Linked DNA regions of Homo sapiens. The protein of the gene in region 1 purifies or fractionates together with the protein of each later gene. This does not show direct contact. Each region holds a gene or a part of one and is shown in the gene's direction. Other genes may lie near its edges.

Region 1 (3,500 bases):
GTATCTGGAACAGTGGATAAAACACAGTAAGCATTCAATAAATAGATACCGAATGAATGGATGGTTGAATTTACAGCATGAGGAACCTGGCCCAAGGGTGAAGCAGTGGGGGTGTACTTGCTAGGAGCCTCTCGAACTAGATCTCCTGTTCTTGAGGATGAGTTTGAGGTTTCCCTCAGCCCAGACTTATTCGATGTTGGACTAAGCTAGGTATTGAATGGAGCTTATTAATTGCCTATTCTTGAATTGTGTGGCATTGATGTCTAAAACCCAGGATCTTCCTATTCTCAATGATCTAAACTAGCCCTGAATCAATTCTCTAAGCCTATCTGCTAGAACCATGACACTAAAAATAGCACAAAATAATAATAAGGACCAGTATGCTACAAAGGGGTGGTGAGCACATTCTAAATGCTGGATTTTGATTGCTCCCATGACAATGAGGCTGAAATACACTGCTGGTCTTTGTGTCCCCTCCCTCAGCTGCGTAGAGCATCATAGGCTGTTAGAGAGGAAAGGACCTCCAAGATCATCTGGGGCCAGCATTCCACTAGAAACCGCAGACTTTTGCCCCAGAAAAGCCTAGGGAACGGTCATCTGTCTGCTTGGCTTCATGGATGCTGGTGAAAGTGTTGGTTCCTGCAAGGGAAATATGTGCACTGAATTTTATAAATTTCATATCAGCCAGGCACAGTAGCTCATGCCTGTAATCCCAGCTACTCGGGAGGGTGAGGTGGAAGAATCACTTGAGCCCAGAAGTTCAAGACCAGACTGGGCAAAACAGCAAGACCTTGTCTCTTAAAAAAAAATGGATATGCCTTGTAAGGATGAACAGAGTTGGGGAAGGTTGCTAAGACATTTGCTCAGTGGCCCATGGGACAAGTGGCTCTGCCTCTATTTTTCCAAGCCTCATGATATGGAAATCTGCCCTGATGTGGGAGTGTATGGAAATAGGTAGAGCAGGGGAATGAGGCGGCACCTGAGCAACCTCAAGTCTGGAGCCACTTTGCAAGAAAAGGTACATCCTTATGGATTTTGCAAGCTGCTGTGTTAAAGACAGGTATTGGGGCTAGCTCTGCCCATCTGTCTACCTGAACCTGAATAATGTCCTGGGGCATATCCATAGAGAATGGAATCTGTGGAAACCAGAGCCTCATGCCGGTTCTCAAAACTCTTACTTCCATTTTACTGAAAATCCCTAAGAGAGGGTCCTTTCAAATGTGTAGTTTGAGACAGCAGGTTGATTAAACACCTCATGGTCTCTCCATAAACCCAACCTCATCTCCCCATGGTTAAGGCATAGCTACTGCTGCCACATGGATTAGTCGGCAGCTCATTTAGGTGTCTACAAAAATGCCTTTCAGGCTTGGAGTTTCTGATCAGGTGTCACAGTTCTCCCTAATTTCCACCAGGGATGTGTGCCTCATCTGCCATCTGAATGATGCCAGGGAGTACAGGGCCCTAGTGGGTGCTCGATGTCCAGGAGATAGAACCATATGCCTATGAATCACAGAGCTGGGGAGCAGCTGCTTGGCTGGCACCTCCTGACAGATTCACAGGAGCCCTGGCTTCTGGGCAACAAGGTGTCTCAGCACATCAGCGTCTCGAAAGCTATTATTACCTGTGAGCCGCCCTCCCATTTCTTGAGCTGTGCAGCATAAATAACAATTATGATGGTGACCGAGACACCTGTGCTATGAGATACACTAGGTTTCACTTCACTTGGGTGAGTAGAAAATTTCAGGGTAGAAAGATGACCATGAAATACCCATTCAGAAAACTAAAGAAAACAAAAGGATGGGAGGCACATGGAAGTTCAATAAAAGCATCTCTTTGCAGGATGGAGAGAATCCAAGATCCCACTGAGAAAGGAAATGTCAACCAGCTGCCCTGAGTCTCCCCGGGCCACAGCTCCCTCATTCTCCACTGTCCAGAAGTGGGCAGGAAATGGCTTCCAGGGAAGCAGAGAGCAGGGCCACTTCACGCCTTCTAGATGCCAAATGGAAATGGGATTATTGAGACAATGGGACCCAAAATTATGTTGTCAGGTGGGGAGGACATGAACAGCATTGTGATTGTTGCTGTTCATTTCACTCTGACACATTGTGTCTCCCTGGCCATTGTTGAGTCCTATTTTTACCCCGCCCCAAAACCTTTATCCTTTGGTTTGTAATTCTGGTAAAACAAAAAAGCCACTCAAAGAATAGTACTCCACATAGGTAAAAGAAATAGTGTCATTGTTCAGCCTCATCACCTTTTTGAGTCAGCCAGGGATTGACGAGCTGAGATTTAGGGCTGTGAACTGCATACCTATCGGCAGGTGTCATGTCTGATATGGGGCCAGCTTCCCCATTAGTAAAAGTCCATTAGGCGCTCTCCCAAGAATACTGAGGTAGCTAAAGACTCTGCATTTATTAAGCACAGAGTGTCCTCAGAGACAGGTGTGCTACATAAATACAAGGTGGTTTAATTATTTTAACAACCCACTGATACCATCTGATGAGCAGCAGTAGGTCTAGGGCTTCGGTCCCTTTGCTGCAAATGATGTTTGCAGACATCTGTTTAACATACTCCATTCCCTTTTCTCTGTCCCCATTGGCACAGATCCCTATGTGAAAGTGTCCTTGCTCTGTGATGGGCGGAGGCTGAAGAAGAAGAAAACAACCATAAAGAAAAACACTCTCAATCCTGTCTACAATGAGGCCATCATCTTTGACATTCCCCCGGAAAACATGGATCAAGTCAGCCTGCTCATCTCAGTCATGGACTATGATCGGTAGGTAGGCGTCCTAGAGGGACGTAATTCTACCCCTCACTCCCACTCCAGCACCAGCACAGGGCTCCTTGACCTTAGACCTTGTGATTCAGGGCTCAGCTTTAGGGTTCAGGCCTCAAATCTATCTGTACCCAAGAAGGGTGCAGGAGTTTGAGGAAGAGCATAGATTCTCCCTTAGCAAAGGTTCAAAGTTCTTTTCCCAACTGGCCTATCTCCGTCAGGGGCAGCTCTGTCCATCAGTTTCCCTGAATTCACCCCTTGCTATTCCCATTCTTCCATCTGGCACCAAGTCCTATTATCTGGCCTTTGAAATGCCCCTCTATCCTCTCTATTTCTGCTGTTGCTACTACTGTCACCCTGGGATGGCTGTGCAGCCTCCTAGCTGACCCCTGCCTCCATCAATTCCTGCCACAATTCGGTCAACATACTAAGGACACATCTTCCTAAATGACAGCTTTCTTCCTGGACCTGCCCTTCTCAAGAACCATCAATGGCTCCTGTGATCCAGGCTTTTCCCTTGGACTCTGATGGCCTTCCCTAATCTGGACCCAGCATATCCATCCAATCGGATCTCCCCTTCCTCAGATATTTTTCGTCTCTTCCACTCATCCTGCTCTTCCATCTAGGCTGGCTCAAAAACATTTTTCAACTACTCTGGTCCCCATAACTTCTTCTCTCCACTTGTCACTTTAGCTAAAGGAGAAAGAAACCATGCAATAAAGCC
Region 2 (2,891 bases), on another chromosome or scaffold:
GCTCGTGCAGATGGGGGTGTGGGTCTGATCCAGGGGTTGGCAAGTTGCAGCTGGCTGCCCATTTTTGTAAATAAAGTTATATTGGCACATAGCCACATCCCTTCATTTATACATTGTCTGTGGCTGCTTTTATGCTGACAGTTGCAGCAGAGAGCAGAACTGAGCAGTTGCAGCAGAGACTGTCTGGCCTGTAAAGCCTGAAGTGTTTAGTGTCTGACTCTTTAAGAAGAAGTTTGCCCACCCCTGGTCTAACCCAATATTGTCCGGAGAAAAATCCAGATAAAGTCATATGTTGGAATGACTAATTCTGTGTAGTACCAGACAGATTAAGAAGTAAAATCATTTCCATTGGTCTGTAGTACATTTTGTTAGCAGTGAAACGGTTTTCTTGATTATTTTAAAAACATCAAATGCATAGAGGTTTTACACTTTGATTTAACTGTATTTCCAGTTAAAATGTCTTCTCTTTTTTGCAGTGTTGAATATGAAACATTCGATATATTGGAGGATGAAGAAGTAAGTTCTGTGTTTGATGTTTCACCCTTGTCTTAGCTTTAATCTTAAGGGCCTGATAGGATGGTTTCAGGATTCCTGTTGTTTCTTTAGGTTCGGCAAGGATTAAAAGCTTACTCAAATTGGCCAACATACCCTCAGCTGTATGTGAAAGGGGAGCTGGTGGGAGGATTGGATATTGTGAAGGTAAGGCCAGTTCTTCTGCTGTTCTAAAGAACGGAAAAGATTTTGGTATGTTTAAAAATGATTTCATATTGAATGGAAACTTGAGAGTTGTTTTTGACTCCTGTTTCCAGCCTGACTCTCAGACATTTCTAGACCAGTATCACCGTTTCTGTGTGCATGACTACCCTGCCATTCTCACTGTCCCCACGTGGCAGCCTGTTCTTACTTTCACACCTGAGCTAACCATTGCATCTCCTTTCTGTGGGGTGATCTTCCCTGTCACTCAGGGTCCTTGTTAGATCCTGCTTCAGCTCCCAGACAACAAATTGTTTTTTCTTGCCTTACTCATCTGCCCTTGGGTGCATGGAGTGACAGCAGTGTGAGGCCTGTGGCCCGGTGCTGCCCATCCTTGCCACAGAGGCTGAGGATCACTGCCCCTGGTCCCCCGAAAGAAAAAATGTAGGTCCTTTTTGGTTTTGAGATGCTTGGAAATCTGTTATCTGTTAGATTGTGTTTTAGATAAGACACCATTTCTTATGTATCTTGAGTCCTTCCTGATGCTTTGTGTATTTTAGGAGTTCAGTAAATGGTTGTTGGATGGATAAGTGACTTTACTTCTTGATTGAGTTTTAAATGGACGTTACTTTGCATGTATTTAATGTCTAGAATTCAGGGCAGGCCCACCAACTAACACCTGTGTGCTCTGTAGCTCTTTGATTAGCCCAAAACAATAAACAGAAGCTGTAGCTTTAATATCTACACACAGACCCCACTGCACCCCAGGCCCACTGTGGGCATGGTGGCATCGAGGAGGGTGGTAGCTGGTTGGGTATAGAGAGGAGCTAGACAGGAATGCTGGGCAGGAATGCCAGGGTCTGCTCAGGGGCATGAACAAAACTGCCCCGAAAAGTGGGTTGCTGACTGCCCTCAGGCCTTCCTCTTGCCTCAATCCATGAGAGAATTTTCTGAGGTCAGATCTTCGACTTTTTATGTGGAAAACAAATAGCAAGTAGTACTACTTCTAGTTATGTTGTAAAATAAAAGTTTTTTTTTTTTTTTTACATTTTTTTTTGAGAGAGTTTCGCTCTTGTTCCCCACTGGAGTGCAATGGTGCAATCTCGGCTCACTGCAGCCTCTGCCTCCCAGGTTCATGTGATTCTCCTGCCTCAGCCTCCTGAGTAGCTGGGATTACAGGCACCCGCCACCACGCCCCACTAATTTTTGTATTTTTAGTAGAGATGGGGTTTCACCATGTTGGCCAGGCTGGTCTTGAACTGCTGACCCCAGGTGATCCGCCCACCTTGGCCTCCCAAAGTGCTGGGATTACAGGCATGAGTCACCGCGCCTGGCCAAAATAAAAGTTTTTAACACGTGCTTTTGTAAAGTGAAGCACTAGCCTACCACTGAAATGACATCAGCACTTTGGACCAATATGTTTTATAAAAACAAAGCTTGAGTTCCATTGATGCAGAGGCTCTTTTTGTCCTTTGGTGGCCTCTGTGTAGGTTTTGTTTCCTGTGGAGTTCCAGGTTTGATATCATACTTCTTAAACAAGCCAGTGAGACATTTTTCCTGGGGAATGGTCTCACTCCTGGAGGAAAAAATTTTTAAGACTATTGCTCTTGAATAGCCCTGAAGCAGCAGAAACAGATCTGCATTTGTTTCTTCCCTCCCTCCCTCCTTCCCTCCCTCCCTCCCTCCCTCTTTCTCTCTCTCTCTCTCTCTATATATATATATATAGTCTTATTTTTGTAAGACACAAAGAATACTCAAACCCCAAATACTCTTGAGCCTGTTCTTGTCTGAATGTTTTATAGCCTGTACCTTAGCCATTGGTAACTCTTGGGAAGATACAATCAATAAATCTCATTTAATTCTAAAGCTAAGCTGCGTGGGTAACTTCTTTTTAGTTATATAACAGAGTGTTATATGATTTTTTATGTTCACCTGCTAAGAACATATACGTTTGAAATGTGTGATATTGTTAACGTTTTTCCTTGAGAAGATATATGGAATAGATCTTACGATCCCATTTTGATCTGTTTCTTGCAGAATGCAGTTCTTCATGTTCAGTTCAATTAAAAGATGTTTGAAATGGTCTAATCTGGCTGGCCTCTTTGGAGCAATGAGCGTTTGTTTTGTTGAATGAGGGACTGAATGATGATTTAGTTACTCAGCTAATCTAGTGTCCTGAGAAAATTGTGAGTTGTTAT
Region 3 (3,500 bases), on another chromosome or scaffold:
CAAAATCATAGAACTAAGTGATAGAATCTGAATTCAAACCCAAGTCAGTCTGTCTCCAGGGCCTTTGCTCTTAACCTATGATTGTACTACGTGAAGTAGGGATCTGTAGGAGAATTCAGGAGCAATTTCTGGGTAGAATTCCCCCAGCCCCTTTTAAAAAAGTACTTCTATCGGAGATGTGATGAAATATGAATGACAGGCATGATAGTTTTTAGAGGAAAGATGGCATTTACCATATGGAAGATGGACAACTGTGACAGTGGTGGCGGTGGGTAGCTAAAGGGACGCATAAAAATTGAGTTCTTAATCTAATTAGGATTCTTGGTAGTCAATGTTGGAGAGTTTTAAGGTTTTTAAATGATTTTCCTATTCTTGCCTCTGGAGTTTAGAATACATTACTTAGCTCATTTCTATCAGGGCAGTTACTCTACCTACTTGATGTGTATAACTCCAACACATTACGCTTATTCTTTTCGGTCTTTGCATTCTGTTCTGGAACTTCTCACTTCACTCTACCCCTACCCCCAGCCTGTATTACTGGCACTCTCAGGCTTCAACTTAAATGTCATCTCCTTAAAGAGACACTTTTCTGAGCTCTGAATTAGAGGAGCCCTCTTGGTCACTTTTACTTCACTTTTCCTTATTTACTTCATAGCATATATTGTTATGTAATTGTTTATTGTTTGTCTATATATTGTTAGATTTTCTCATAAAAATGAAAGCAGAACATAGATTTTTTTTTTCCTTTGAGGTTACCTCAGTGACTCAACAATGCCTGCAACAAACTAGGTGGTCAAAAATATTTGTTGAACAAAATTGGCCAAAACTGGCATCATCTTCTCTGAACAAAAAAGTGATAAAAACAGTATCTGACTATTCAGTTGGCTGTGTTTCTGTGTCTTTATTTATTTTTTTTTATTTTTATATTCTAAAAATGTTGCGACAATGGTGGCTCAGCAATTTTTTTTTTTTTTTTTTTTTTTTTTTGAGATGGGGTCCCACTCTGTCTCCTAGGCTGGAGTGTGTTGGCCTGATCTCTGCTTACTGCAACCTTCACCTCCCGGGCTCAAGGGATCCTCTCACCTCAGCCTCTAGTGGCTGGGACTACAGGCGAGTGCCACCACACCCGGCTAATTTTTTTTTTTTTTTTTTTTTTTTTTTTTGAAGAGGCAAGGTATTACTATGTTGCCCAGGATGGTCTTGAACTCTTGGACTCAAGTGATCTGCCTGCCTCGGCCTCCCAAAGTGCTAAAGTGCTAGGATTACAGGCGTGAGCCACCGTGTCTGGCTGTCATTTTTTTCTTTTTGTGGAGACACAGTCTCAGTATGTTGCCTAAGCTGGTCTTGAACTCCTGGCCTCAAACAATCCTCTCGCTCCAGCATCCAAAGTGCTGGGATTACTGGTGTGAGCCACTGCACCAGGCTTGTTCCTGTGTTTTTGGGTGTAAGCAGTATCTTAACAGTCTCAATTAGTCTTAAAATTATTTTAGACTAGTTCAGAAAGTCTTTAAGAAAGCTAGAAAAATTATACATCTGAATTTTTTAAAAAAATTTTAATCTGTTTTGAGAGGTACTAGTCAAATACATTGTAAGATGTCCTTCTATTGGAATTTGTCTGATGTTTTTCTCATTAGACTGGAGTTACAGGTTTTGGGCAGGAAGACCACAGAGGTAAAGTGCCATTTTCATCACATCATATCAAGGGTACATGCTATCAACATGATTTATGACTTAATATTGACCTTGACTGTTCATATTGACCTGAAATAGTGTTTGTGAGGTTTCTACAGTGAATTTACTTTTTTTTCCCCTCCTTTTCTATACTGTATTCTTTGAAGGGAAGTCACTGTTTGCAGCCCACACTTAAGGAATGGGGAGTTCCTTGATCTTAGGGTGGAGTACCTACTTAATTTATTTGAAATTCTTGTCTCTCCTTTCCCATTTATTAGTTTAGTCAAGTATTTACTGATAATAGTGTGGACTCAAGTATATTTATTTTATATTTTAGGTTACACTCCAATATTACATTATTTTGTTGTTCAGGTTGTTCCAGCTTTGTCCTTTGGGAGCTTCCTGTATTCCTTTAACATACATGTGTGTGTGTGTGCGCGTATTTGTATTGATCTTTGAGTACTTCCTTACTATCTGGAAATGTTCCAGGCTCATCTTGTGTATTTCTTGTCCCAGTGCTAGAATCAGCCATTTCCCCAAGGTGCCCTGGTTCCCTTATTGGAGAATGCTATTAGAAACAAGACCTGGGTACTGAGTGTTCTCTTTGCTACTGGGGTGTCATTTCTTTTAGGTCCTTTCAACTGTTAGAGCAAAGAAATATATGAATGTATGCTAACCCCATGTATATAGACATATCTATAAATATTTCTCTATGTAGCCATCTGTGTCTATATTAAGTTAAACGAGTTCCATAGATCACTTTCAGTAGTATGGGCGGGGGGGAAAAACATGAGTTCCTACTGGTGTCTCCAATTCTGATCCATTATCACATAGATCATTCTAGCCTCCTCCCCTTGCTGATCTTTGAATTTCCATTCACAATAGTGAAAAACCTAATTTCCACCATCCATTTATTTAATTGTCCAGTTCCATTATATATGGATATACATACATGGATAGCAGTATCAGAATTGCTAACCCATACTCCATGAAAAAAACTTTATCAACTAGAGTACATACTTCTGTGCAGTTCCTTTTGCCCTTAATCTTTCAGACTCCACTCATTACCAAAGCTACTTAGGTCAGAACCTTTTTCCCACCCCCTTTGGTGAAGTTGTTTCACACATCTGTAATATAGATTCCCTTGTCATAGTCTTCATTCTTTTCTGCAATCTCCCAGTCTCCTAAATGACTTTTTAAAATTTGCATACATTAAAGTTCACTCTTTATGTCATAAAAGTCTCGAACTCCTGCCTTGGCCTCCCAAAAGTGCTGGGATTAACAGTACAACCCACTGTGCCCAGCTGACATAAATTTTTAATTCAGTTGGATAAATACCTAGAAGCAGGTTGCTGGATCATATGGTAAGACTAGTTATAGTTTTGTAAGAAACTGCCAAACTCTATTCCAGAGTGGCTGTACCATTTTGCATTCCTATTAGCAATGAATGAGAGTTCCTCTTGCTCCACGTTCTTAACAGCACTTAGTTCTATCTGGTTTTTGGATTTTAGCCCTTCTGGTAGGTATGTAGTGTCCCCACTTTATTATTATTATTATTTTAAAGAGATGGGGTCTCACTGTGTTGACCAGGCTGGTCTCAAACTCCTGGCCTCAAGCAATCCTCCCATCTCAGCCTCCTGAAATGCTAGGATTATAGGTTTGAGCCACTGTGCCTGACCTAGTGTTCTCACTTTTTAAAATTATTCGTTTTCACGACATTACCTTTTTTGAAAATAAATGTTAGTTTTTTAAGAGGAAACTTTTTAAAAATTAACTTTATTTTGGAATAATTATAGATTGTTCCAACAGAAAAGTTGCAAAGATGATGT
Region 4 (3,500 bases), on another chromosome or scaffold:
GGCGCGGTGGCCTATGCCTGTAATCCCAGCATTTTGGGAGGCCGAGACGGGCAGATCACGAGGTCAGGAGTTCAAGACCAGCCTGGCCAATATGGTGAAACCCCGTCTCTACTAAAACAAAAAACAAAAATTAGCCAGGCATGGTGGCACATGCCTGTAATCCCAGCTACTCAGGAGGCTGAGGCAGGAGAATCGCTTGAAACCAGAAGGCAGAGGTTGCAGTGAGCTGAGATCGTGCCACCGCACTCCAGCCTGGGCAACAGAGCGAGAGCCTGTCTCAAAATAAATAAATAAATAAAAATAAAAATTGCAATGGCAACTCAAGGGAGAGTTGAAGCCTTCTTGTTGTTCTACAGATTTGGGTGTGTACACTTGTATGTGCACACAGAGATTGTTTACATTGTTACACATTTTCACTTTTAATCTCTAAAATTGCCATCTCATTTTAAGATGAAAATAGAAGCTCAGTTTTTCATGATCCTGGTTTCTGTCAAATTCTTGATTTAGTAGGGGCCAAGATTACCAACATAGATAACTAAAGTATTCTACATATGATGCATTCCTTTTTAAAAATTTGTTTTAGAGGACAGAGGTTTAATCATTCTTTATGAGGCTGAGTGCAGTGGCTTACGCCTGTAATCCCAGCACTTTGGTAGGCCAAGTCAGGCAGATCAATTGAGGTCATGTTGAAACCCTGTCTCTACTAAAAATATAGAAATTTAGCCAGGTGTGGTGGTACGTGCCTATAATCCCAGCTACTGGGGAGGCTAAGGCATGAAAATCACTTGAACCCAGGAGGTGGAGGTTGCAGTGTGCCAAGATCACGCCATTGTACTCCAGCTTTGGCTAGTTATGTGGTACTGCTATGCTATTAATTTTTTTAAAAATTATTGTGATTAGGAATGGGATCTCACTATGTTGCCCAGGCTAGCTGGGCTCAAGCAATCCTCCTGCCTCAGCCTCCTGAGTAGTGGGACTATAGGTGTGCACCACTACGCTCTATTTTTATCATAGAATAAGCCAAAGGCAGCCTTTTATAACACTGTTTAGAGCTGAGTTAGGGATAATGAAAGCTTTAAATTGGGGGTAATTATGTACAGTACATGGCAAAGGCATAATAATGAGCTCTTACAAGTCAGTGATACCTAGGCAGGACCCCCAGTGGAGATGAAGTTTAGCTATTATCAGTTTACTTTTAAAAGTTTAACATCACTAAATGCAGTCAATACAATTTAAACTTAATCAATACCTCTTTTCATTACAAATCAGAAAGAAAAAAAAACGTTATAAGCAATCATTCCTCAGTATGATCATGGAAATGGGTTCCTTCATTACTCCTATGAGTATAAATTAGCAGGACTCTTTGGCATTTTGCATCTAGATCCTCAAAAATGTTATCCTTGACTCTTTATTTTTACACTCATAATTCATGAGTATAAAAGAATCATATGAAAGCTTATACACAAGCATGTTCCTCCAGCATTATTTTCCATCACAAAAAATAGGGGAATGGTTAACCATAGAATGAACACCCATTGGACAGATCCTAACTGGATATCATATAATATAGTATTACCTTTTGTAAGCCTCAATTTCCTCATCTTATGGAGTGAAAATTAATTGAGATAAAGCCTATAAAGTGTTTTTCACACCTGCCTGGCACGGAGTAAGCACTCACATAATAGCTATTAACTTTGATTCCTGAATGAATGCCATAGAAACCATTTGAGGCTCCCTCATTGTTACCAGTGCTCATTTTAACAATCCTGTTGTCCAAGAGTGCCAGGTTTTCTTCTCTCTATGCTTAGCAACAGTCCCAGTGGGTTCCGGCTAGCTTTCTGCATTTCGTAAAGTGGTCACAATAAATACAAAAGCCATGCTATGTTCCACATAGAAGTCGAAGTAGAAAGACTCCCATGCCATCCCATTCATTACCACATTTTACCACGTAAGTAATAAAAATCCACAGTGTCGGGGTGGGAGTGCCAAGGCTTCATAGGTTCCATTTGAAAACTTTACTCTGCAAAAGGAGATCAGCCCCAGGAACTAGTACCTAAGACAGACACTGGCCTCTTATATTTCATATCCTTTAGGTATTTGTCTGATACTTCTTCACTCTTAACTGCAGCCCTGCCATTTCAGCAGGCATTAAACTAGATTCCTGTTACATGTTTATATGCAGGAAATAGATTTTAAATGATGATAGGTGATTTTTTTTTTAATTCTTTGTGGTTTTTTTAATCAAGTTTTTTTGTTTTTTGTTTTTTGTTTTTTGTTTTTTTTGAGACAGAGTCTTACTCTGTTGCCAGGGTAGAGTGCAGTGGTGCGACCTTGGCTCACTGCAACCTCCACCTCTCAGGTTCAAGCAGTTCTCCTGCCTGAGTCTCCCAAGTAGCTGGGACTACAAGTGCGTGCCACCACACCCAGCTAATTTTTTGTATTTTTAGTAGAAACAGGGTTTCACCATGTTGGCCAGGATGGTCTCAATCTCTTGACCTCGTGATCCGTCCACCTCGGCCTCCCAATGTGCTGGGATTACAGGTGTGAGCCACCATGCCTGGCCACTTTAATCAAGTTTTCTACAATCAATATGTATTTCTCTTAAAATGAGGGATACAGCTCCTGATGTAAAGAGTTTTTCCTAGCCTTGCAATTACTATGGTTGCAAGAATAAGCAGAGTTTTTGGGTTGTGGTGAAGTATCTAAGCTAGAGTTTGACTAGAAATGAAGGCAGGTAAATTTGTAATCAGAAAGTCACAATGATTTGATTTGATTGTGAAAGTCACAATCCCCTGTGTTAAGTTCATGGACTCAAAGTAGCTTTCCCATATTTGTACGTCATTTTAAACATAAATTATGCTCTAAGGACCTTACATTCAAAAAGGGACGAAAGCATTTTTATGAATGATAGTGGTTATAGGAAATGTTTATTTCTTTTTTGTTTGTTTATAGTAAATCTGATATGTCTCGCTTGCGATTAGCTGCTGGTAGTGCCATAATGAAGCTTGCTCAGGAACCTTGTTACCATGAAATTATTACCCCAGAACAGTTTCAGCTCTGTGCACTTGTTATTAATGTAAGTAACAATCTTATTTTTGTCAATTACTTATCTTCAAAGTTGAATACATTACTTTTCTATGGATACAAATCCATTTATAATGTGAATATATGCACAAAAGTCACTACTATTATTACCTGTTTAACTGTCTTCCAATTATTACATTATTTATTCTCCCATATAATTATCTTCTTTTTAATTGAAGACACTAAAAATACTTAAACTGCTGTTTTTTATTTAATAAATGGTTGCCAATTTAAGTTTTTCTGTGCTGCTGTAGGATGAGTGTTACCAAGTAAGGCAGATATTTGCTCAGAAGCTGCATAAGGCACTTGTGAAGTTACTGCTCCCATTGGAGTATATGGCGATCTTTGCCTTGTGTGCCAAAGATCCTGTGAAGGAGAGAAGAGCACACGCACGACAATGTTTACTGAAAAATATC
Region 5 (3,257 bases), on another chromosome or scaffold:
GGACATCTCCCTCCCGACCTCAGAGCCCCAGCTTCCAAGGTCCTTGCTTTTCTGTTGTTTTCTTTCCCTGATGCCCATTTTTCCCTTTTGGACTGCCACACTCTGGTATTGCAGAGGGCCGCGGGGTGAAGATTGCCCGTGCCCTGGTGGGCACCTTCATGTCAGCACTGGAGATGCCTGGCATTTCTCTCACCCTCCTGCTGGTGGATGAGCCTCTCCTGAAACTGATAGGTGAGACTTGGAACCTGGGGTCACCCAAGCCAGGGCTCCTTGTAACTGGAAGGAGCCAGGGAGACTTGGAGACCCCGTCAGGGCTGACCGTGACAATCAGGGCTCTGGAGCCTGTGAAGAAGGCTCTTCCTGGGCTTCTCCAGCCTTCTCCAGCTCTCACTGGACTAGAAGGAGTTGGTATTAGGATCCTCCTCAGAGAGGCCTGACCCTTTCCCAGGGACCCTCTCTCCATACCCCTGTATACAGTAGGCACTCAGTCCATGCTTGTCGAGGTGGACTCCCTTCCTCCAGGGCTGCTGAGAAAGCCAGGCCACCAGGGTCAGGATGGGAGGGTCCAAGCCCTGCTGAATCCCTGGCTGGACAGCCGTGTCTAAGAGAGTTATCTTGCTGCCCTTAGATGCTGAAACCACTGCAGCAGCCTGGCCTAACGTGGCTGCAGTCTCCATTACTGGGCGGAAGCGGAGCCGGGTAGCCCCTGCCGAGCCCCAGGAGGCCCCTGATTCCACTGCTGCAGGAGGTACCAACCCCTGCCTTTGGGGAAGGGACAGGCTTCCCAAAGGATGCAGGAGTATACGGTGGGGCGGGTAGGGGCCCTGGCACCCACACCTCCCACCATAGTCAAGTGTGGTTGTGAGAAGGGCCTGGTGGGCCTGTTCTTCAGCATCCTCCCTTTCTAGGCTCAGCCTCGAAGCGGATGGCGCTGGTGCTGGAACGGGTGTGCAGCACTCTCCTGGGCCTGGAGGAACACCTGAATGCCCTGGACCGGGCTGCTGGTGACGGCGACTGTGGCACCACCCACAGCCGTGCGGCCAGAGGTTGGTGCCAGGGACTTTGCCAAGTGAGGTCATTCACAAAACCTTAGCCCCCCTTCCACTTGTTTCCCTGAAGGCAGGGACCTTCCTTTTTTTTTTTTTTTTTTTTTAAGAAGGAATCTCACTCTGTCGCTAGGCTGGAGTATGCAATGGTGTGATCTCGGCTCACTGCAGTCTCCGCCCCCCGGGTTCAAGTGATTTTCCTGCCTCAGCCTCCTGACTAGCTGAGATAACAGGCATGCGCCACCACGCCTGGCTAATTGTTGTGTTTTTAGTGGAGACGGGGTCTCGCCATGTTGGCCAGGCTGGTCTCTAACTCCCCACCTCAAGCCATCCGCTCGCCCTGGCCTCCCAAAGTGCTGAGATTACAGGCATGAGCCACCACACCCGGCCGACAGGGACCTTCTTAACACCACAAATGTATGAGGTTGTTATCTTAGAATTAAATGAAATCCTTCACAGTGAATAACTTACAACTCAAGGCGAACTTATTCTGTTGTCCTTATTTTTCTCAGTTTACCCAGACCAGTGAAAAGCTCTTAACTGTCCAGCATCATTCATTCGAGAAAAAGGTATTTGGTGCCTGCCGTGGGGCAGGCACTGCTCTCAGCTGTGGATACAGTAGTGAACAGAGCAGACAGAAATCACTGCCCTCATGGCTTATGTTCTAGGTGGAAGACAGTCAACCAGATAAATCAGTAAAACACAGAGGATGTTAGCACAAAGGGCTAAGGAGAAAAAAACCAAGCCAGGGAGCAGAGTACAGAGCGTCAAGTGGAGGGCTTCGGGGCAGGCCTCACCTCCCCAGGCCCCTTTCGGTTACGCAGCCCAGCCCCTCTCCAGACTGCACACTGGATGTGGAAAGGGATCTTGGGAAGCCTTCATTCCACTTCCCTGTCGGCCTTTTCCAGCCTTCATTGGTGCTGGCTGGAAGTCTGGCAGATGGAGGGAGGATCTCTGAATTCCTCCCCATCTCTCTCTGCCTGCAGCAATCCAGGAGTGGCTGAAGGAGGGCCCACCCCCTGCCAGCCCTGCCCAGCTGCTCTCCAAGTTGTCTGTCCTGCTCCTGGAGAAGATGGGAGGCTCATCTGGGGCGGTGGGTGCCTGGGGGCTGAAGGGCTGACAGGGAGGTGGCTGGGCTGGCTGGGGTCCAGGCCAGCACCACATGCTCAGCGTTGTCATCTTCCCCAGCTCTATGGCCTGTTCCTGACTGCGGCTGCACAGCCCCTGAAGGCCAAGACCAGCCTCCCAGCCTGGTCTGCTGCCATGGATGCCGGCCTGGAAGCCATGCAGAAGTGAGCCAGAGCCCTGTGCATCAGACCAGGGGTGGGCTGGGGGAGGTGTTTGGTGACATCTGCGCCCTGCCAGGCCCTAGCCCAACCCTCAGAGTGATTCCCTTGGTTCCCTATAGTGAGCCTCTTTCACTCTCTTTCCCTGCCAGGTATGGCAAGGCTGCTCCAGGGGACAGGACTATGGTATGTACTCAGGCTGTGGCCTCAGACCTTTCTCCTTTTGGCCCTGTAAGTCTAAAGAGCACCCTCGGTTGCAGGGCCCGTGCTCAGCCCCCTTTCCTTCACCTTGTCCAGCTGGATTCTCTGTGGGCAGCGGGGCAGGAGCTCCAAGCCTGGAAGAGCCCAGGAGCTGATCTGTTACAAGTCCTGACCAAAGCAGTCAAGGTGAGTGAGGCTGGGCCCAGCCACCTGGGGAGACAGGCTTCTAGCCAGCAGACTCCTGTCTCCATGTGACCCTGAGCAAGTTAATAACCTTCCTGGACCGCAGTTTCCTTCTCTGTACAATGGAGATGAGCACCTATCTCAGAAGGTGGTTATGTGGCTAAGGAAATATGTAGAGCCCCGCACACTGCCTGGGATGTGACAGGGCCTCAGTGAATGGTGACCCTTTTCCCTGCTGGAAGTAGATGAGAAGTGACTTTCCATTTGGTGACAGAGCAGAGGGTGCTGGCAGAGCCAGGGCAAGGGCGTGCAGGGCCAGGCTGCACGGCAGAGACGTTCTGCCCATGGCAGGAAGGAGGCGGCCTGGTGATCTGCCCTTGAACCTGCTCCCACACCCCATCCCCCAGAGTGCCGAAGCTGCAGCCGAGGCCACCAAGAATATGGAAGCTGGAGCCGGAAGAGCCAGTTATATCAGCTCAGCACGGCTGGAGCAGCCAGACCCCGGGGCGGTGGCAGCTGCTGCCATCCTCCGGGCCATCTT
Region 6 (3,500 bases), on another chromosome or scaffold:
ATCAGTTTGCACATTCTAATCACTTTCCAGTATCACAAGAGAGATTTTTACTTATATAATAGTCCTAGAGTTTGCAGCTGGTAAAACCAGAGGCTACATCCAGTATTACTGCTAAGAGACATTCTTCATCCACCAATGTTGTACATGTATGAAAATGGTGTACTGTATACTTTAACATGCCCCATACTTTGTATTGGAGAGTACAATAATGTAAATCCTAAAAGCACCACTATTTTAGCATAATAAAAGAAAGTCCAAAGAGCTCCTATATAGACTACTCCAGATAACTTCGCTTCTTTGATACTTGTAGCTTATTGTAATTTTTTTTAAGAAATTCAAGGTCATTATTATTGTACAAAATAAGCGCTTTGATTAACACAGCTATATAGTTTTTTTAATTTTTAAAAAACCTGTGGAGACGGTGATCTTGTCTTTAAAACATGATAGTCCTTTCAGTATAATGTCTTAGATTAAAGACGTTGCCTTTAATATCTGTTGGGAAGGAAATGTCCAGACTTTTCAAATCTCTTATTATATGTTTCCTTTTTTTGTTTACATAGGGAACAATGTTTATAGTCGTGTGTACAGTGGGGGTCTACAACAAGAAGTGTATATTTTCAAACAATTTTTTAATGATTTAACAATTTTTGTAAATCATTTTCAGGCTTCTGCAGCTGTAGATTCTCACTGTGAATCCCTTGCTTGCTCATGCATAAGTGTATTTGCAATACCAAATATACAGGTTTAGTATTTTTGCCTGTTAGTGATTGTTTCACATGTGTAACGTTTTGGTTGAGATGTTAAATGGTGGACGAGTACTGTGGATGTGAATGTGGGAAGTAATTTTAATCATATGTAATTGGTCACAAGGCCTAATTTGCAGTAACTATTGCTGTTTTATTTAACAATGCCTTGTTGCTTTGTATGCATTAATGTTTGGATGTAAAGATTGTGTGTCTATCCAACAGGGAGCCACAGTATTTAAATTGACCAACCTAATGTTACAACTACTTTGAGGTGGCCAAATGTAAACTAAAAGCCTTAATTAAAGTGGTGCAATTTTGTATAACTTAGCATCAGTAGTTCAATAAATTTGGATTGCCATGCAAGGGCTTGCATTATAATTACTTGCCACTTGAATGTGTTTTGTGTAATGTTTTAACAGTGCTAGTAAATAAATACGGGTTTACCCTGGTTTTAATTGTAATAGGTGCATTTTACACAGCATGGTTTCATAATTTAACATCTGGGCAAGCCAGACTCATTAATTACAGGAATAAGGAAGTAGCGAGTTTTCTGGTATTGTTTGAATATCCACATAACCACCTTTTGAACTTTTCCTTGAGAAATAATTTTGTAAATCAAGCAGTATTACTTACGAATAAATGCCTTTGGGTAATGTTCAGTAGCTATTTGATGAGGTAGGTAAAAGAGGAACGATTTAACATACTTTCATGGATGTTACACTATGGATTTTTTAAAATACAGGATTGAAGTTAGAATATTGTGGTTATAAAAATCTTTGAGTGATGTGGATTAAGCACTTAGAGAATCGATATTTTTCTTAAATATGCTATAATTGAATTCTGTAAGAACTGAATTCTTATAGAATTATTTTAAAACTTTTTAAAAATTGTAAAGCTCTTAAAAAACTTTTTGAAAGTATTTGCCAGCTACTGGAGCAATTAATCAGTGATAATATCTAATAGAGGGGTATCTGCTAATCCCCTAAATACACGCTGTTTGAATGATACATTTTTAAAGGCTTTCATGTTAAGAAAAAGTCTGATTCTTTACAAAAGGGACTTGTTTTGGCAGAACTGGTTTTATTTATAATCATTTGGGAAAAAAATTAAGCCCAAAAAACTGGGACTGTGAAACACTAAAATTACTTCAATTTACTATGTCCTGTTACATCCATTGATACCGCCATTATTCAATAATTACTTTTAATAAATGTTTGCTGCCTACCAGCTATGTACCAGGCCCAGTTCTAGGCTCAAACAGCTAAATATTCATTCATTGGACAAATTAAGTACTTAAGTATAAAAATTGTTCTAGGCCTAAGGATGTAGCAGCAACCAAGATCAACTATAAAATGCTGCCCTCCTAGAATTTATATTCTATTGAAGAGTTTCTCAGCCTCAGCACTATTGATGTTTTATGTTTGATAATGTATTCTGGCGACTCTCCTGTGCATTATAGGAATTTTAATATCTGCCCACTAGATGCCAGTCACACCACCCCAGCCCCCAAGTTGTGGCAACCAAAAATGTTTCCAGACATTGCCAGATGTTCCCCAGTTGGATTGTTGGGGGACAAGGGAGGTGAACTTGGAGGGCAAAATCACCCTGGTGAAGAACTACTGCTCTGGTGGGAAACAACACATTAGTTACAGATGAGTGTTAGGGTTACAAGATGGATGGTTTACTATATAGTGAATAAGAATATAAAGTTTGGAGCCAGACTTCCTGGGTTTTTAATCCCAGCTCTTCCAGTTCCTACTATATGCCTTTGGTTGGGTGCCTTGGTTTCCTCATCTGTAAAATGAGAATGATAATACCTACTTCATAGGAGAGTGAAATGAATGCCAGTGCTATCCTCTAGGTCTATATATATATATATATATATATATTATATATAGTACATATATAGAGAGAGTATATATATATATGTAGTACAGTGGAGGTCTATATAATACTATATATATAATTTATTTTTTTCAATGCTGATAGGAATAAGGCTGTGGTTTGGCAAAAAGCACCATTTTCTCCTATACAAAATAGTAACTGCAGTTTGGGAGCACAACTCATGTAGATTGACTTTTCTGGTGCTTAATGGGAAAATACTAAAATAATTGAGTCAGAAAAGGCATGAATTCCTTTTCACGTCCCCAAGGATACTTGAAGAAACTTGAGTTTTAGGAGAAAATCAGAGTGGTCTTTCACTTACATTTTTCTAAAAAGTGTAAAAACCCTGTATTGACTTTCTTGTTGATTCAGTTGTTTCTTAAACGTAAATAGCTCATCTTTACCATATGTGGGCATTACAAATAGAAATTTTTAAAATTCCATTTATAAAATGAAGTTTTGCCGTTTTTTTTTTTAAATCATTCCGTCTTTAGTTGTGGGACAGCAAACTTAGAATCGAAACTCATCACTACAACTTTTCTTTGAGTTAAACTCTTATCTGTGTTTTCATTGAATTTAATCTCCATCTATTCTATCTCTTCTTAAATCTTGGAAATGTAAAAGGGAGTTATAGTGTTTTACAATTAATACTCTTACTATTACCTTAGAAGCCTTAAAAGTGCTTGCAGGCTTGTCTCATAATCTGTCAGTGAGCCTTAACATTGTGATTTGTAAGACTAAAATTTTTTTTTCAAACAAAACAAATCTGACAGCCTGGGCAACATAGACCCCATCTCTACAAAAAAAAATTTTTTTTTAATTAGCTGGGCATGGTGGTGCACGTCTGTACCTGTAGTCCCAGCTATTCAG
Region 7 (3,500 bases), on another chromosome or scaffold:
GAGTGCAATGGTGCTATCTCAGCTCACTACAACCTCCGCCTCCCGGGTTCAAGCAATTTTCCTGCCTCAGCCTCCCGAGTAGCTGGGATTACAGGGGCACACCACCACATCTGGCTAATTTTTGTGTTTTTAGTAGAGGTGTGGTTTCACCATTTTGGCCAGGCTGGTCTCAAACTCCTGACATCAGGTGATCCACCTGCCTCGGCCTTTCAAAGTGCTGGGATTATAGGTGTGAGCCACTGTGCCCAGCCGACAGTTTGTTATTTCTTGCAATTCTTTGGGTTAACTGAGCGCAGTGGCACTTCTACATTGCTTGGTATAGCTGGGGTCATTTAGACAGCTGCATTCACCTGGGCCCTCAGCTGAGACTACAGTGTCCAAGATGGCCTCTTACCTATGAGAGTTTCTCCTCACTTGTTTTTTTATCACTTAGTTGTCTAGCTCAACCTTCATTATAGCATGGTAGTCGGCTTCCAAGAATGAGTGTTCCATGGGAAAAGATCCAATGTACAAAGTTCTAGCAAGCCTCTGCTTGCATCACACTTGGTAATATCCTGTTAATCTAAACAAGTCACAAGGGCAAGCCCAGTTTCTGTGGGAGGGGAGCATTGACACAAGTTCCTGAATATGGAAAGCGTGGTCCAGTGTAACAGTCTTTAACACAATTGACACACCACTCCTTGTAGTAATAATTCTATTTAAGATTGATATCTGTGTGTATATTGTATGTGTGTTTTATTAAAAATATTTTCCCCTAAAGTTAATTATTTATAGTAAGCTGTTAGGTGCAAAGAATTGCATAGGAGTCTGTATATTTCTTAACATGGATGAACTTCATTGTCTCAAAAAAAAAAAAAAAAACTACCACAAAAATACCAGCATATTTATTTCTCTTTTGAGATTATAGGAAGGAAAAATGATGGAAACATACATAGGGATAGTGCTGAATTTGCTATTTAAATAGTTTTTCATAATTTTATGGTTTAGTGTCAATTCCTAGTTTATATAACAACTAGTGAAAAAGAATGACTGGGAGTCCAGAGACCTAGCTTTTCTTGTTCAGGTATGGATAGTAATATATACATAATAACTGACATTTTATAATGTAACAATTTACCTGTTTCACAGTTTAAAATCCTTGAAATGAGATTACATGATGTAATTGCTGGAACCTTACATTGTAGTTGGCAGTGATACTTTCTTTCTTAGTGGCACATAAACTAATGGTGTGTCATTTTTGATATTTTAGATTCAGGGAAATACAGTAATTTTCTCAGTGGCATTAGATAAATTGCTTAATTTCTCTGTGCCTCAGGATGTAGAAATACATGACATAACTTCCAAAGGGAATAATGAAGAACTGTAGAAAATACACAAATGTATACTTTCCATTTTTTTAAAAAACAGTGAAGGTTATAGATTATAAAAAACAATGTTTTATATAAGCTTTCAAATGTACATGTTTATATTTTAAATGGCAATATTTAGTATTTACATATAAAAAAGATCATTTATACTGCTTACATTTCAAATTCCATTATATATCTAAAGTGGTAACATCTTTGGATTATTTTTGAAAGACCAGTGGCAGGAAGGATTGATTATAAAAGAGTTTGCTTGAAAGTACCCCTCTCAACCCTTCTCATAAGAAAATTAAACCCTGGCCTGGGCGGCTGCCTCCACGATGCCACTGCTCATCGAGGGGCAGCGAGTGCGGCTGCCACAGTCCGCCGGGGACCTCGTCCGAGCCCACCTGCCTCTGGAGGAAACAGCCAGATGTATCAGAGGTCAGTCTGTTCAACAACTGGGACCCCAGGGCCTTCTGTATGTTCAGCAAAGAGAGCTCGCAGTGACCTCCCCAAAGGATGGCTCCGTCTCCATTTTGGGTTCTGATAATGCCACTACTTGTCACATTGGGGTCCTGTTGCACACAGGTTATGGCGCCACCTGCTTGACACATTGTGATGGAACCGACACCAAAGCTGGGGTCCCCTTGATCATGAACTCCATAAAGTCTTTTTCCGACTGCGCTCAATGTGGAAGCCTGGAAGTATACCTCGTGGGAGGCTTCAGTGATGTGGGAGGCAGTTGTCACAAAAACTCACTCATTAACTTCTTAGTGAATTTGACAGGCAAGAAGATGACATTCACTTAGTGATACTATGATTATGTGTGACAGAATTAAATGACCAGGAAGAAAACGAATAACACTTTCTAATAATATATGGCATTGCTGTCAACTTAAGACTGCAAAGATTTACAGAGCCTCCTTTCTTTTTTTTGTTTGAGACAGAGTCTCCTCTGTTGCCCAGGCTGGGGTGCAGTGGTGTGATCTCGGCTTACTGCAGCCTCTGCTTCCAGGGTTCAAGTGATTCTCCTGCCTCAGCCTCCCAAGTAGCTGGGATTACAGGCGCCCACTGCCACACCTGGCTAATTTTTATATTTTTAGTAGAGACAGCGTTTCACCATGTTGGCCAGGCTGGTCTCAAACTCCTGACCTCAAGTGATCTGCCCACCTCAGCCTCCCAAAATGCTGAGATTACAGGCATAAGCCACCGTGCCTGGCCTACAGAGCCTCCTTTCAAGATCGAGGTCCAGAGGAGCAGCTGCGTGCCGCGTGAGCTTTAGCAGGAGGACCAGTGATTAGCATTTACGATGCAAAGACAGAACAACTTCGTATAGGACTGTACTCCTGGACACCATTTCCACATGTGGATTTCTGCTTGCAGCAAGATGACAAGCAAATACTAGAGAATCTTTCCACTTCGTGTCTGGCCGAGCCACCCCACTTTGTTGAACATATTAGATCTACCTTGATGTTTTTAAAAAAAAATACTGCTCCAACTAACACACTGTTTCCTGGAAATAAAGCCCTACTCTACAAAAAAAATGAAGATGGCTTGTGGGAAAAGATCTCTTCTCCAGGAAGCTAAAAAAATAGGAATTACCAAAGAAAGCAGAACCTTCTTGGCCTGACAGAGACCATTGGTGGGGCCAGCAAGAATCCAAATTTGGAACCTACATCCATTGGGTCTTAGGTCTTCTCCTTCCTTCCTCAGTGTTTTTCAAATGACTTTCAAAATAAAACCTTATTTTGGCAAAGGCAAAAAAAAAAAAAAAAAAAAAGGAAAATTAATTAAACCCTGATCCCCCCAGGCATCCATTGTGATGAATTAACTTCCTTCCTATGCATCTAGAATGGGACTACAGTATTTCTGTATCATTCTTAGGAAATAGAAAAAAATAGTTACTTACACAATTTTTTTGTAGGGCTTAATTTTTAGTGGAACTCCCAATTGAGAAAGGTTGCTTAGAGCATAAGTTGCATATAAACATGTTAAGATACTTATTTATTTTTTACCACAACCTTATGAGTTAAGTACATGACTTTTCCATAAAAGAGAAAAAACTCAGTTGTGGTAAGAATATAGATCTTGCAACCAGTTCAAGGTCATTAAGCTGTGACTTGAATCCTGGCAGTCTGGTTTCAGAGACCATGC

The links.
Region 2: the proteins of SYT6 (region 1) and GLRX3 purify together in Homo sapiens (affinity purification with mass spectrometry; one large-scale study listed by BioGRID and IntAct). This does not show direct contact.
Region 3: the proteins of SYT6 (region 1) and CKAP5 purify together in Homo sapiens (affinity purification with mass spectrometry; one large-scale study listed by BioGRID and IntAct). This does not show direct contact.
Region 4: the proteins of SYT6 (region 1) and PDS5A purify together in Homo sapiens (affinity purification with mass spectrometry; one large-scale study listed by BioGRID and IntAct). This does not show direct contact.
Region 5: the proteins of SYT6 (region 1) and TKFC purify together in Homo sapiens (affinity purification with mass spectrometry; one large-scale study listed by BioGRID and IntAct). This does not show direct contact.
Region 6: the proteins of SYT6 (region 1) and RAP1B purify together in Homo sapiens (affinity purification with mass spectrometry; one large-scale study listed by BioGRID and IntAct). This does not show direct contact.
Region 7: the proteins of SYT6 (region 1) and RMDN1 purify together in Homo sapiens (affinity purification with mass spectrometry; one large-scale study listed by BioGRID and IntAct). This does not show direct contact.

Annotation. Positions count from the first base shown.
Region 1 is NC_000001.11:114,098,370-114,101,869, reverse strand, and holds part of SYT6 (synaptotagmin-6), read left to right. Parts: intron 1-2,604; coding exon 2,605-2,776; intron 2,777-3,500.
Region 2 is NC_000010.11:130,174,391-130,177,281, forward strand, and holds part of GLRX3 (glutaredoxin-3), read left to right. Parts: intron 1-476; coding exon 477-516; intron 517-606; coding exon 607-699; intron 700-2,891. UniProt on the Homo sapiens protein: Together with BOLA2, acts as a cytosolic iron-sulfur (Fe-S) cluster assembly factor that facilitates [2Fe-2S] cluster insertion into a subset of cytosolic proteins.
Region 3 is NC_000011.10:46,836,281-46,839,780, reverse strand, and holds part of CKAP5 (cytoskeleton-associated protein 5), read left to right. Parts: intron 1-3,500. UniProt on the Homo sapiens protein: Binds to the plus end of microtubules and regulates microtubule dynamics and microtubule organization. Acts as a processive microtubule polymerase. Promotes cytoplasmic microtubule nucleation and elongation. Plays a major role in organizing spindle poles.
Region 4 is NC_000004.12:39,862,912-39,866,411, reverse strand, and holds part of PDS5A (sister chromatid cohesion protein PDS5 homolog A), read left to right. Parts: intron 1-2,952; coding exon 2,953-3,076; intron 3,077-3,338; coding exon 3,339-3,500. UniProt on the Homo sapiens protein: Probable regulator of sister chromatid cohesion in mitosis which may stabilize cohesin complex association with chromatin. May couple sister chromatid cohesion during mitosis to DNA replication.
Region 5 is NC_000011.10:61,343,228-61,346,484, forward strand, and holds part of TKFC (triokinase/FMN cyclase), read left to right. Parts: intron 1-114; coding exon 115-231; intron 232-628; coding exon 629-748; intron 749-908; coding exon 909-1,046; intron 1,047-2,032; coding exon 2,033-2,139; intron 2,140-2,234; coding exon 2,235-2,338; intron 2,339-2,484; coding exon 2,485-2,518; intron 2,519-2,629; coding exon 2,630-2,719; intron 2,720-3,067; coding exon of another isoform or gene 3,068-3,097; exon of another isoform or gene 3,098-3,123; coding exon 3,124-3,257.
Region 6 is NC_000012.12:68,659,399-68,662,898, forward strand, and holds part of RAP1B (ras-related protein Rap-1b isoform 1 precursor), read left to right. Parts: 3' UTR 1-3,500. UniProt on the Homo sapiens protein: GTP-binding protein that possesses intrinsic GTPase activity. Contributes to the polarizing activity of KRIT1 and CDH5 in the establishment and maintenance of correct endothelial cell polarity and vascular lumen.
Region 7 is NC_000008.11:86,481,187-86,484,686, reverse strand, and holds part of RMDN1 (regulator of microtubule dynamics protein 1), read left to right. Parts: intron 1-3,500.